2 separate regions of the Homo sapiens genome follow, and region 1 is linked to region 2. Evidence: fine-mapped QTL for protein levels in blood plasma. Region 2 holds a variant in brackets. A gene starts in the other region. All regions are shown on their reverse strands.

What was found. PIP is the chance, under the fine-mapping model, that this variant and not a neighbour inherited with it causes the effect. Protein levels are from antibody-based Olink assays in UK Biobank. Linkage for the fine-mapping came from a reference panel and not from the study's own genotypes, which makes the PIPs less certain.
Region 1: it holds the start of FCRL6, and the variant in region 2 is fine-mapped to the plasma level of the FCRL6 protein (UK Biobank, PIP above 0.99).

Annotation. Positions count from the first base shown.
Region 1 is chr1:159,800,736-159,806,090 of GRCh38, reverse strand. FCRL6 (Fc receptor like 6) reads right to left here and starts at 3,731. Exons shown (of 10, transcript NM_001004310.3): 1 at 3,636-3,731. The coding sequence starts at 3,666. It overlaps LOC105371464 (a long non-coding RNA gene), which reads left to right. Exons shown (of 3, transcript XR_922195.2): 1 at 1-3,553; 2 at 3,944-4,143.
Region 2 is chr17:35,473,806-35,479,186 of GRCh38, reverse strand. SLFN12L (schlafen family member 12 like) reads left to right here. Exons shown (of 5, transcript NM_001363830.2): 3 at 1-70; 4 at 1,002-1,112; 5 at 3,702-5,381. The coding sequence ends at 4,264. Among named protein-coding and RNA genes, the nearest start is that of SLFN13, 28 kb to the right of the region's middle. The variant C/T (reference allele first, on the strand shown) is at 2,614.

The DNA of each region.
Region 1 (5,355 bases), not on the chromosome of region 2:
GGACTCTGCTTATTTTACTCATTGCTATATTTTCTATGCCCAAGACCTGTGCCTGGAACATAGTCTGTGTTCAGTAAGCATCTGCTGAATAAATGCATGAATGTTTTCCTTTGCATCCCATTGTACGAGGTGGGAAGCAAAAAGTAGAAAACATAGGACTAGACTCTTGTACGAATGTGCCTGAGGGTCCTACCTCCAACATCTACAGGAGAACCCATATAGCAAGGGCAGGACCTGATTCTTGTGGTCCCATCTCTCCACAGAGCTCTGGCAAAAAGGGTATGGAAGTGACCAGACTGAGGAGGATAAGTCCCCTGAAAGAGTAATCATTAAAGGATGTGAGACATTATCAGGCAGCATGGATGAATGAGAGAACTACAAACAAACTGGATGCATCCCACATCATGCTTGCATCTTGGATGTGCTACATTCATGTTTTTAAATGAGTGAATGTGTGAGAACAGGTGACCTGGGAAGAGGGGCCAACTCACAAAATGATGACAGATATGGTTAGATAGGTTTGAATAGCCCAAACAATGGAAGACCTGAAATTGAAGGTCATAGCTGGATATGAAGCAGTGAAGAATCTTCTGGACTTTGGGGCAAGGTGTGAAACAATGAATGAATGTAGGGCTGAGTGCAGTCAGTCCAGCCAATCCTCATACATTTACTTGTGTCCTGCATTGCTGGCATGTCCTAGGTATTTTACATAACACCAAAAAAAAAATGCAAGAATGGCCTTGGGAAGGGTGGGTGAAAACCCTCTAAGAGCAGATGTTTGGCTCTGTCACATGGTATCATCTTTGCTTTCTACACTACTTTGGACACAGGTGGAATCTTTCAGCTCAATTCTCTATTCAGCTCAGGGTCAGCTCAGTCATATGCTCTCAAGAGTGTGCAGAACAATGAGTCTCTTCTTTATCATCCCTCCATCTCCACCCCTAACCCCCATCTATGAGCTCGGTGTAGTGGAAAGCATGCAGGATTTGGAATCAGATGACCTGGACTTGAGTCATGAATTTGCCTCTTTCTGTACGACCTTGAACAAGTTGTCTAAGTTCCAAGAGCCTTCAATATCTCATTCTGTCATATCACATAATAGAAATGATAATAGTCATTTTTTTCTTACAGTGTAGTTGTGAAGGTTATGTTGACCCACTGCCTGGGAAAGTGGTTACTACATTAACTGAAAGCAGAAAGAAGGCCTGACCTCAGAGTGACAGAGACCTTACTCTGTAGTTATGTCTTCCTTCCCTTCCCCACCTCACTGGAAAACAATTGTGCAGCTACAAAGTGCTAAACAAACAGGGTTGAGACTACTGAAGCCAAAAACAAGACAGAAGGCACTCAGGAAGCATAGATGCACTTAAAATGAGCTCCTGTCCCCAAATCTCAATGACTTGCTCCCCATGGTACTGCAAGATCTTGGAGGTGGGATTACAAAATTGGTTTCTGCAATCAAAACAGCAGCCAACTGGGAACATACACAGGGGGTGACACCTGCTTACAGCAGTTCCTGCAATGAGGGCCCAGGGACCTCCATTAGCTATAGGCTGAAGATGAGGTGACAGTATCATGAAGTGGCCAAGAGCTATGGTCAAACCAAGTTGCGTAATAGAATTCCGAAAAATGAAGGCAGGAGCCCCTGCCAACTCTAGGAGCAGGATAATTTCCTCTTAAAGTTTCTGAGGGATCGGGAGATATTTATCTGGGAAAGATGCAACAGAGGAAAGACACAAAATACTTGGTGGGCTAAGCTTAAAAGAAGGGGGAGACTTATTCTGAGTTACTTTATAGGACAGAAATGGAAACTAGAGGGATCATGGAGGCAGATTTCGGCTCAACATGAAGAACTCTCTCACCACTGAGCTCTAGCACTGTGGAACAGGCTGCAGTGCCAAGCTGCAGCAGTCACATTGCTGGGAGGGCTGTATGGGACCCCATGACACCTCCTATGGACGCTGTGTGAGAATGCGGGGAGCAGCCTCCAGTGGTAGGAGGGAAGTTGGCTAATGTTCAGCTCAGAAGAAAATTAAGCCTAATTTCCCAAACTTTAAATACATATTTCACATTCAGCCAGGTCCCCACATGCTCAATGTCAGGATTCCTTTCCTCCCGGAGCCCTGACAGCCAATAATAGTAATAGCCACCAATTTATTATGACCACACCCTGCTCTTGAGAGAGGAAATAGCAGCTCTACACTTATGGTAAGATAAATGTTGCTACACACCCAGCCCCAGTGTCTGTGTTTTAGGCTGTTTTTCCAGGGTCCCTGAGCATCAAGTGGGACCAAATTTGCTGGTGCTGGATTCTCCATTACACTGTGCACCAGTCAGCCGGTCACTGATTCCCTTCCTCTCCTCATTTGCTGTCTGTCATCCTCGTCCTGGGTTCCAAGCTGGAACACTCTCAGACTGTATCTAGACAAGTCCAAGGGCTGTTCCTTTTACAAGGTAGTGCCGGTAGTGCCATTTGCCCCTGGGAGTCTTCTGCCTGGAGTATATCCAGGCATTAGGCTATCCTGTCCCCGCCTCAGTGTGAGCATTAGACCTTTTCATTTGTCCAAATGGCCATTCATAGAACACACGAGTAGCATGCTATGCTGGAGAAGGAACATTGAGTGGAAGGGGCATTTTCCTCACAGGGTCAAATTCTCACAAACTCTGTCCAGGAAGAGGTTATATTTAGGAACAGTTTTGCTTTTCTAGTTCAAGGAATACAAATAGCAAGCAAGCTATTGGGACCAAGAATTAAACAAAAAGTAGGTCCACTTGGAAACTGTAAAGTGAAACAAAATATATGCCAAATTATTTCTTTTAGGTATAAGGGGGGTGACACTGGCTGAGACTGAGCTGGGTCTGGGGGAGCCCAGTGACCCTCTGCGTGCAATCCTCTACCCTTAGACCAGCTCTCTTAGTTACAAGTAGCCTGCATGAGAAGAAATGGAGAGAAGAGAGAGAGAGACATGGATCAGACAATGGAGTTGATTCTTCAAACCAGCCCCATGGATCTGAAACAGCTCCCAACAGAGAGAAGATGTAGGCGGAAGAGAGACAGTCAATTTGAAAAGGGCTTTGGTTACTCAGAGCACAGGCCTTTCAACCAGGTGAGAGGTCTGGCCATTGTTACCTGGTTCTAAGAAAATGCTGAGGCTCCATAAAAATATGTCACCCTGTAAAATTCCACCTCCCATTGCTGAGCAAAATGCCTGGGACTGTTTCCCCTCATTTCCCTGACTCCTTCCCTGTTGCCCCCAGCAGCCTCCTTCCCTCCTGCAACCTCCATTTCCTTTTGAGACAGCTCTGATTAGTATTTTAACCTGATGTCACAAGGTAGAAATGTCATTGGGAAGTTAGGGGACTTTGTAATGTGATTTTCTGCCTCCCTAATTTATCTCTGACATATCAAAGGGCTGCGCTGCCAAGGACCCAGGACTACGGGGTAGGAAACACTGAGGAGTTTCTCCTACCCCAGTGCCCATCTCTCCCAAGCATGCCCAGGTGCACACACCTGTCTTGAGCTCCAGCCACAAACCCACTGGAATTGGGAAAGGTAAGATGAGGAACTTGGTGTCTCAGGGATGACTTACGGTCCTTAGTGCTCCAAGAGGGGATGCCCATGCTCGTTGACTTACCAAAGAGCAGCACAGCCGTCCAGAGCAGCATGGGGCCTGTTCTGGCACAGCGGAGGGAACACAGGTCAGAAACAGGTCAGGGCGAAGCCGGCAGAGAGCAACCAGGCCTCAGGACCGAAGGTGGGTGGGTGGCCTGAGCTGGGTGGTGCTATAGCTTGATAGCCAAAATAGGAAGTGGAAAAGAAACTTACAAAGCTCTAATTGATATTTCCTCTTTGGTTGAAGAAGTATTACATGAATAAATTTTCCTGAACACTAAGTATGAAGGAGTCGGTAAATCACTAATAAATCCCTGACATTTTCTGCAGCTTCAACAAGCCTATGCCAGGGAACTAGGATGGAACATGGTTATGGGACACCTCCATTAGAAAGGTCCAGAGACTGCCCGAATTTGCTTGGCTTCAGCGTCATTCAGCCTGGGAGACAGCGCAGCACTGTAAAACTAAGATCATCTACCCCTTGACCACCGAGTGACCTCCCAGCTTCCAAGGAGCTCCTGTCTCCAGAGGTAAATGTGTGTGGATGCTGCAATGCGATGGAGAAGTGGAGCCCTGAGGATGCTTCACAGGATCCTCAGTTCAGGAGGGAATCAGACATCGATGAGTCTGGAGTAGAACACAGATGGAGCTTCGGCATCTGAGGCTTTTAAGACTGTCAGTATGATTTTGAGAACTATTCCTTAAAAGACACCATTAAGAGAAGGAACAGGCAAGCTGTGGTGTGATGAGATAGTTTAAATACATGTAGCTGACAAAGGGCCCACAGAAGAAATATAAGAATTTCTGCAAGTCAGTAAGAAAAGGACAGACAACATACTAGAAAAATGGGCAAAAATAATTGGATAGGTACTTCACAGAAGCAGATATCCACGTGTCAAATCAACATAGCAAAAGGAGCTAGACATCATAAATCACCGTGGAAATGCAAATTTAAACCATAATAAGATACCACTACACCTTCCATAAGAATAAGGGAGTGATACCAGCTGAGACTGAGCTGGGTCTGGGGGAGCCCGTGACCCTCCCCATGCAATCCTCTACTGAGTATTGGTGAGGATGTGAAGAAACTAGAACTCTTGTACACCACTAGTGGGAATATAAATTGGTACAGTCACTAGAAAATGGCTTGGCAGAATCTACCAAAACTAAACACAGGGATCCCTGATGGCTCAGCATTTTCACTCCTGGGTAAATGTCAAACAGAAATGTATACATATAAGCCTGAAAAAACATATACAAGAGTGCTCATAGCAGCATCATTTGTAATAGATAAAAACTGGAAATTATTCAATGTTCCCTCAACAGAAAAAGAGGTCACACATTCTCATCTCCTCTGTGGACAGAACATGGGAGTTCACGGTGAAACACAGAGTCAGGCAAAATACTAGGAAGCATTTTCATTTTCTTGTTTCTTTTCTTTCTTTTTTCTTTTTTTTATTGAGAAGGAGTCTTGCTCTGTTGCCCAGGCTGGAGTGTAATCTTGGCTCACTGCAACCTCCGCCTCCCAGGTTCAAGTGATTTTCCTGCCTCAGCCTCCCATGTAGCTGGGATTACAGGCATGCACCACCATGCCTGGCTAAGCATTTTCTGACAGTAAAGTTCTTCCTGGAAATCTTTAAGTGAGAAGTTCTACATAGTCTGATGGAATTTGATGTGCCTATTGCTGAGGCCAGGAATGGACAGAGAGAATTTTCTAAGTTTTCTTGCCCTAGATTGTCTGA
Region 2 (5,381 bases):
GTGAAAGATAACAGAGTTAAGCAGTTGACCGAGAAGGAATGGATCCAGTTCATGGTGGATTCAGAACCAGGTTGAGGAAGGAGGATTGGCAATAAGGATACCTTTGGCTTGGGTGGCAGGAAGGTTTTATTGTATCTTTGGGATTAGGGACAAGATTAAAAGTCTTCAAATTTCAACATCTCTGGTGGATACAACCAATACTTCCCTGCCTCTTGTTTTCTTCTGCACACTTAGAAGATAGATATTCCATACAATAACTAAATATCTACTCTTAGTAGCCTTATCTGATGCAAAGATTCTAGATGTTTCTTCTCTACCATTTCTTTACTCACTTTCAAGGAAAGCCTGTTCAATTCTTTTCGTTTTTCTTTCAGGGCTCATTTTCTGTAACTAACCATTGCTTTCTTTTGGGAACACTTACTCTTTTACTTGCTTGCTCTTTCATCTTTCTTTACCCACTTTCCATTTATTTCCTGTAAAGACTTCCCCTCTTCCTCTCACATTTATGAGCCAAAGAGTAACCTAAATTGTACCAATAAGAGAAGAATAATGCTGATATTTTATCTGGTTTTGGAAAAGGAAAGCCTCCAGTGAGATTAGACCAGAACTAGCAACTTACAAAATCTCTGAAAATGCAAACTTGTTCCTCAGAATCTGCATAAAACCCAGTTTTCCTTCACTAGCCATCACATTCTTCTAATTTTAACTTGTTTTAAAATAAACTCAGTTATATGGCAATGTATTAAATTGCTATCAATGCATTTTTACTGTTAATTTTCCTTCCAAGTATAGAGTGTTTCAGCAGCATCAAGAGTTAATTTTACAATTTGTATCTGACCTAGGAATCTAACCACAATATGTAACCACAATATCTAATGTTCTGTATTGGGAATGCAGGATCAGTTCTAAGTAGACGTTTGGTATACTGTGCATTAGTTAGCTTGAGTCTCTCCCATGCCAAATTAAGAGCGTGATTTTTGTTTTCTAACATTATTCCATAGTATGTGAGGAACTGCCCTCTCCAGCAAGTACATCATCACCTGTCTCCCAGAGTTATCCTCTTCGTGAATATATTAACTTCAAAATTCAGCCACTGAGATATCACCTTCCAGGTAATTTAATTCTGGCTTCCGTGGAGTTGTTGGTGTAACTGTGTTCAAACCTCCTTCTCTTCAAACCAGCTCTGTCTTGATATTTGTTATGGAAGCACATTCTTTTGTTTATGGAAATTCTTTGGTGTTTTTAGTCATTGAATTTGTCAAATTCTATTTCTTTAGGTGCCTAAGTAGGGGTAGAATTGTTCGTTCAGGCAGTGTGTGAATATTTAAGTAATAAGATAATGTCAAATTATTTCCAAAGTAGATAGCTCACTTTACTTCCACCAGCAATATATTGGAAATGCCACATCTTTTCCAATGCCAGACTTCTCTCTTCATCTTTCTACTTGAACTTCTTTTCTCTTGAACTTCTTTTCTTCCTCAGTCAAATCGGTATTTATTTGGGTATATACATGGAAGAAAATATCTCCCATAGAAGATATTTTATCTTCTATGAAGTGGCGATTCTGTCTTTTGCTCATTTTTGTAATAGGCTTTATCTTTTTCTTACTGATTTCTAGGAGCAATTCACAGATTCTAACATAAAATCCTCGTTTAGTCACAGATAGTACAGATTTCAGACGTCTTCTCCAAGTTCATGACTTGCATTTTCTCTTTTCCCAAGGCATATTCTCCCTAGCAGTTTTAAATTGGATATAGTCAAACTTGCCATTTAAAAATTTTGTGGTTTAGTGCTCTTTGTGCCTTGTGTAAGAGATCCTTCCCTACCCCGGGGTTATAAAGATATTTCTGTTTATTTTCTTTTAAAAATTTTAAAGTTTTGCACTTAACATTTAACATTTAAATATGTAATCCACATCCATAAACGGTGATGTAGGGGGCTATTTCATTTTATCCCATGTGGATAACCACTTTTCCTAGATCCAGTTACTGAAAACTCAGTTTCACCTGCTGATCGCCACCTCTGGGATATTACTGCATACAACTGACCCTTGAACAAACTGGGGCTTAAGACCACCAAACCCCTGATGATTTTTATCCATTGATTTCAATTTTCTGAGCCTGTAAGAGGATCAGGACATCTTCATCTTTTCACCTATTTTATTTTTGGGGGGTTTTAAAAAAGATGTAACAGTTATTTTAAAGTCCCTCTTTGATGACTCCAATGTCTGAAGCACTTGCCAGTCTTTTTCTATAATCCAGTTTTTCTCTTATTTTCTAGTAATTTGTTCTGATTTTTATCCTGTCTCTTAATTTTGTATAGTATTATGGATTACAAATTGTAGAGACTTTAGTAGATGTTACATTTCTTCAGATAGGGTTACACATTTTTTTTTTTTTTGGCAGACAGAACACCAGTGATAACTTTTACTCTTTTGAAGTTTTGTTTTATGCTTTTCTAGGTATAGTAGCTTTTAATTTTGCACTAATTACTAGGTCATGGCTCTTCTGGGGTCTTAAAGTCTGGGGTATTTACCAAGACCCTTCTACTTGGCTGGGAGTTGAATTACAATTTGTGTTTCCTGAGCACCGTGAGGCTGATGAAAGTGATGTT[C/T]AGCTCTTTAATCTCCCAGTTGATCAGTTGATATTTTCTCCTTCCTTCCTTCTTTCCTTCCTTCCTTCCTTCCTTCCTTCCTTCCTTCCTTCCTTCCTTCCTTCCTTCCTTCCTTCCTTGCTTTCTTTTCTTTCTTTTTGTGACAGGGTTTCACCATATTGCCCAGGCTGGTCTCAAACTCCTGGGCTCAAGCAATCCACCTGCCTCGGCCTCCTAAACTGCTGGGATTACAGGCATAAGCCACCACACCCAGCCCTAGTTGATATTTTCTTCTGTGTTTCTAGCATCTCACCTGTATTAGCCAGTGAGTTGAGGGAAATTTGTGGGTAGATTTTGGCTTCTTCTCTTCAGTTTCATCTTCTCTGGGATTTTGTTTCTGAAATCCCAGCTCCTCTGGCAGCCCTGAAGTCTGACCTCTGTTTTCTTTAGCCCAGTAAAACTGCTGATTTCTGCATGGGCTCTATTTACCCATGCTGTGATATGGAAAATCTCCTTAGGGAAAAAGCAGAGGTGAATGTGAAGCTACTTCCTGTGATTCTTCTGTATTAAAGATTGTAGCCCTTTAAGTCCTGCTTGTATTGGTTGCTCTCCAGTCCTTTAAATTATAGTTTTATGATATATATATATACATATATATAAATTTAAAAAAATATATATATATGTAGAATTTTTTTGAGACAGAATCTCATGCTGTTGCCCAGGCTGGAGTGCAGTGGCATGATCTCAGCTCACTGCAGCCTCAACTTCCTGGGCTCAAGTGATCCTCCCACCTCAGCCTCCCAAGTAGCTGGGACTACCAGCATGCACTACCATGCTTGGCTAACTTTGTAACCTTTTTGTAGAGAAGAGGTCTTACAGTGTTGCCTAGACTGGTCTTGAACACCTGGGCACAAGTGATCCTCCTGCCTCTGCCTCCCAAAGTGTTGTTATTACAGGTGTGAGCCACCATGCCTGGCCCTGATACACTTTTACATAGCTTTTATAGTTGCTTTTGGTGGGAGAATTAATCTAATACAAGCTGCTTTGTATCCATGGCTTAAGTTGGAAGTTCTCAGTCTTTTATAATTTATCATTATTTCCCCATCTAGGGCTATCAGAAAAGATAACTTGTGCTCCAAAAACCTTCTGCAGAAATCTGTTCTCACAACATGAAGGACTTAAGCAATTAATATGTGAAGAAATGGGCTCTGTCAATAAGGGCTCACTGATCTTCTCTAGGAGCTGGTCTTTGGATCTGGGCTTGCAAGAGAACCACAAAGTCCTCTGTGATGCTCTTCTGATTTCCCAGGACAAGCCTCCAGTCCTATACACCTTCCACATGGTACAGGATGAGGAGTTTAAAGACTATTCTACACAAACTGCCCAAACTTTAAAACAGAAGCTGGCAAAAATTGGTGGTTACACTAAAAAAGTGTGTGTCATGACAAAGATCTTCTACTTGAGCCCTGAAGGCAAGACAAGCTGCCAGTATGATTTAAACTCGCAAGTAATTTACCCTGAATCCTACTATTGGACAACAGCTCAAACAATGAAAGACTTGGAAAAGGCCCTTTCAAATATCTTACCTAAGGAGAATCAAATCTTTTTGTTTGTTTGTTTGTTTCGTTTTTGTTTGTTTGTTTGTTGGTTTGTTTGTTTTTTCTTGAGATGAGTCTCACTCTGTCACCCAGACTGGAGTGTAGTGACACGATCTCGACTCACTGCAACCTCTGCCTCCTGGGTTCAAGCAATTCCCTGCCTCAGCCTCCCGAGTAGCTGGGATTACATGTGCCTGCCACCACACCTGGCTAATTTTTTTTTTTTTGTATTTTTAGCAGAGATGGGGTTTCACCGTCTTGGCCAGGCTGGTCTTGAACTCCTGACCTCGTGATTCAACCCCCCCCCCCGGTCTCCCAAAGTGCTAGGAGTACAGATGTGAGCCACCGCGCCCGGCTGGAGAATCAATTCTTTTATAGACCAATTAGCCTTTGACATTTCCAGCATCTCCCAGATAATCAGTATAGATAAGGATGTTTAAATCTTGTCCAAGGCTCACTTGAATCATGGAAGATGGACTGGGCTACAGAGATATTTTTCATTATATATTTGGTAACATTCTCTAATTCTCTAAAAATACGTCTTTGAAAACATTGCAAGTTAGGCAACTTGACGTGATGTTGGAAAACTGGGATTAGCCTATGTTCGCTTCTTCCTAAGTTCTTTATAGATATTCCTTAAGGGAAATTAGAAAAATTAATTACCTACACATGTTTTGCCATACCAAGATGTCATTTGACTATAAAGGAAATATCAGACATTCTTATCCAATGGACATGGAAAACATAGTTCTCTAATATCTTCTTGAAAACTATATTGCAATGAAATGCAGCCAATGAAGAGATGAATCAAAATGGAGAACTTGCCGAGTTGGATGGATCACTTGAGGTCAGGAGTTGAAGACCAGCCTGGGCAACATGGTGAAACCCAGTCTCTACTAAAAATATAAAAATTAGCCAAGTGTGGTGGCACACACATGTAGTCCCAGCTACTCGGGAGGCTGAGGCATGAGAATTGCTTGAACGCAGGAAGTGGAGGTTACAGTGAGCCAAGACCACACCACTGCACTCCAGCTTGGGCAAGAGAGCAAGACTCTGTCATCTCTATGCAAATAAACTAGAAAATCTAGAAGAAATGGATAAATTCCTGAACACATGCAACCTCCCAAGACTGAGCCAGGGAGAAGTCAAATCCCTGAACAGGTCAATAACAAGTTCTGAAATTGAGGCAGT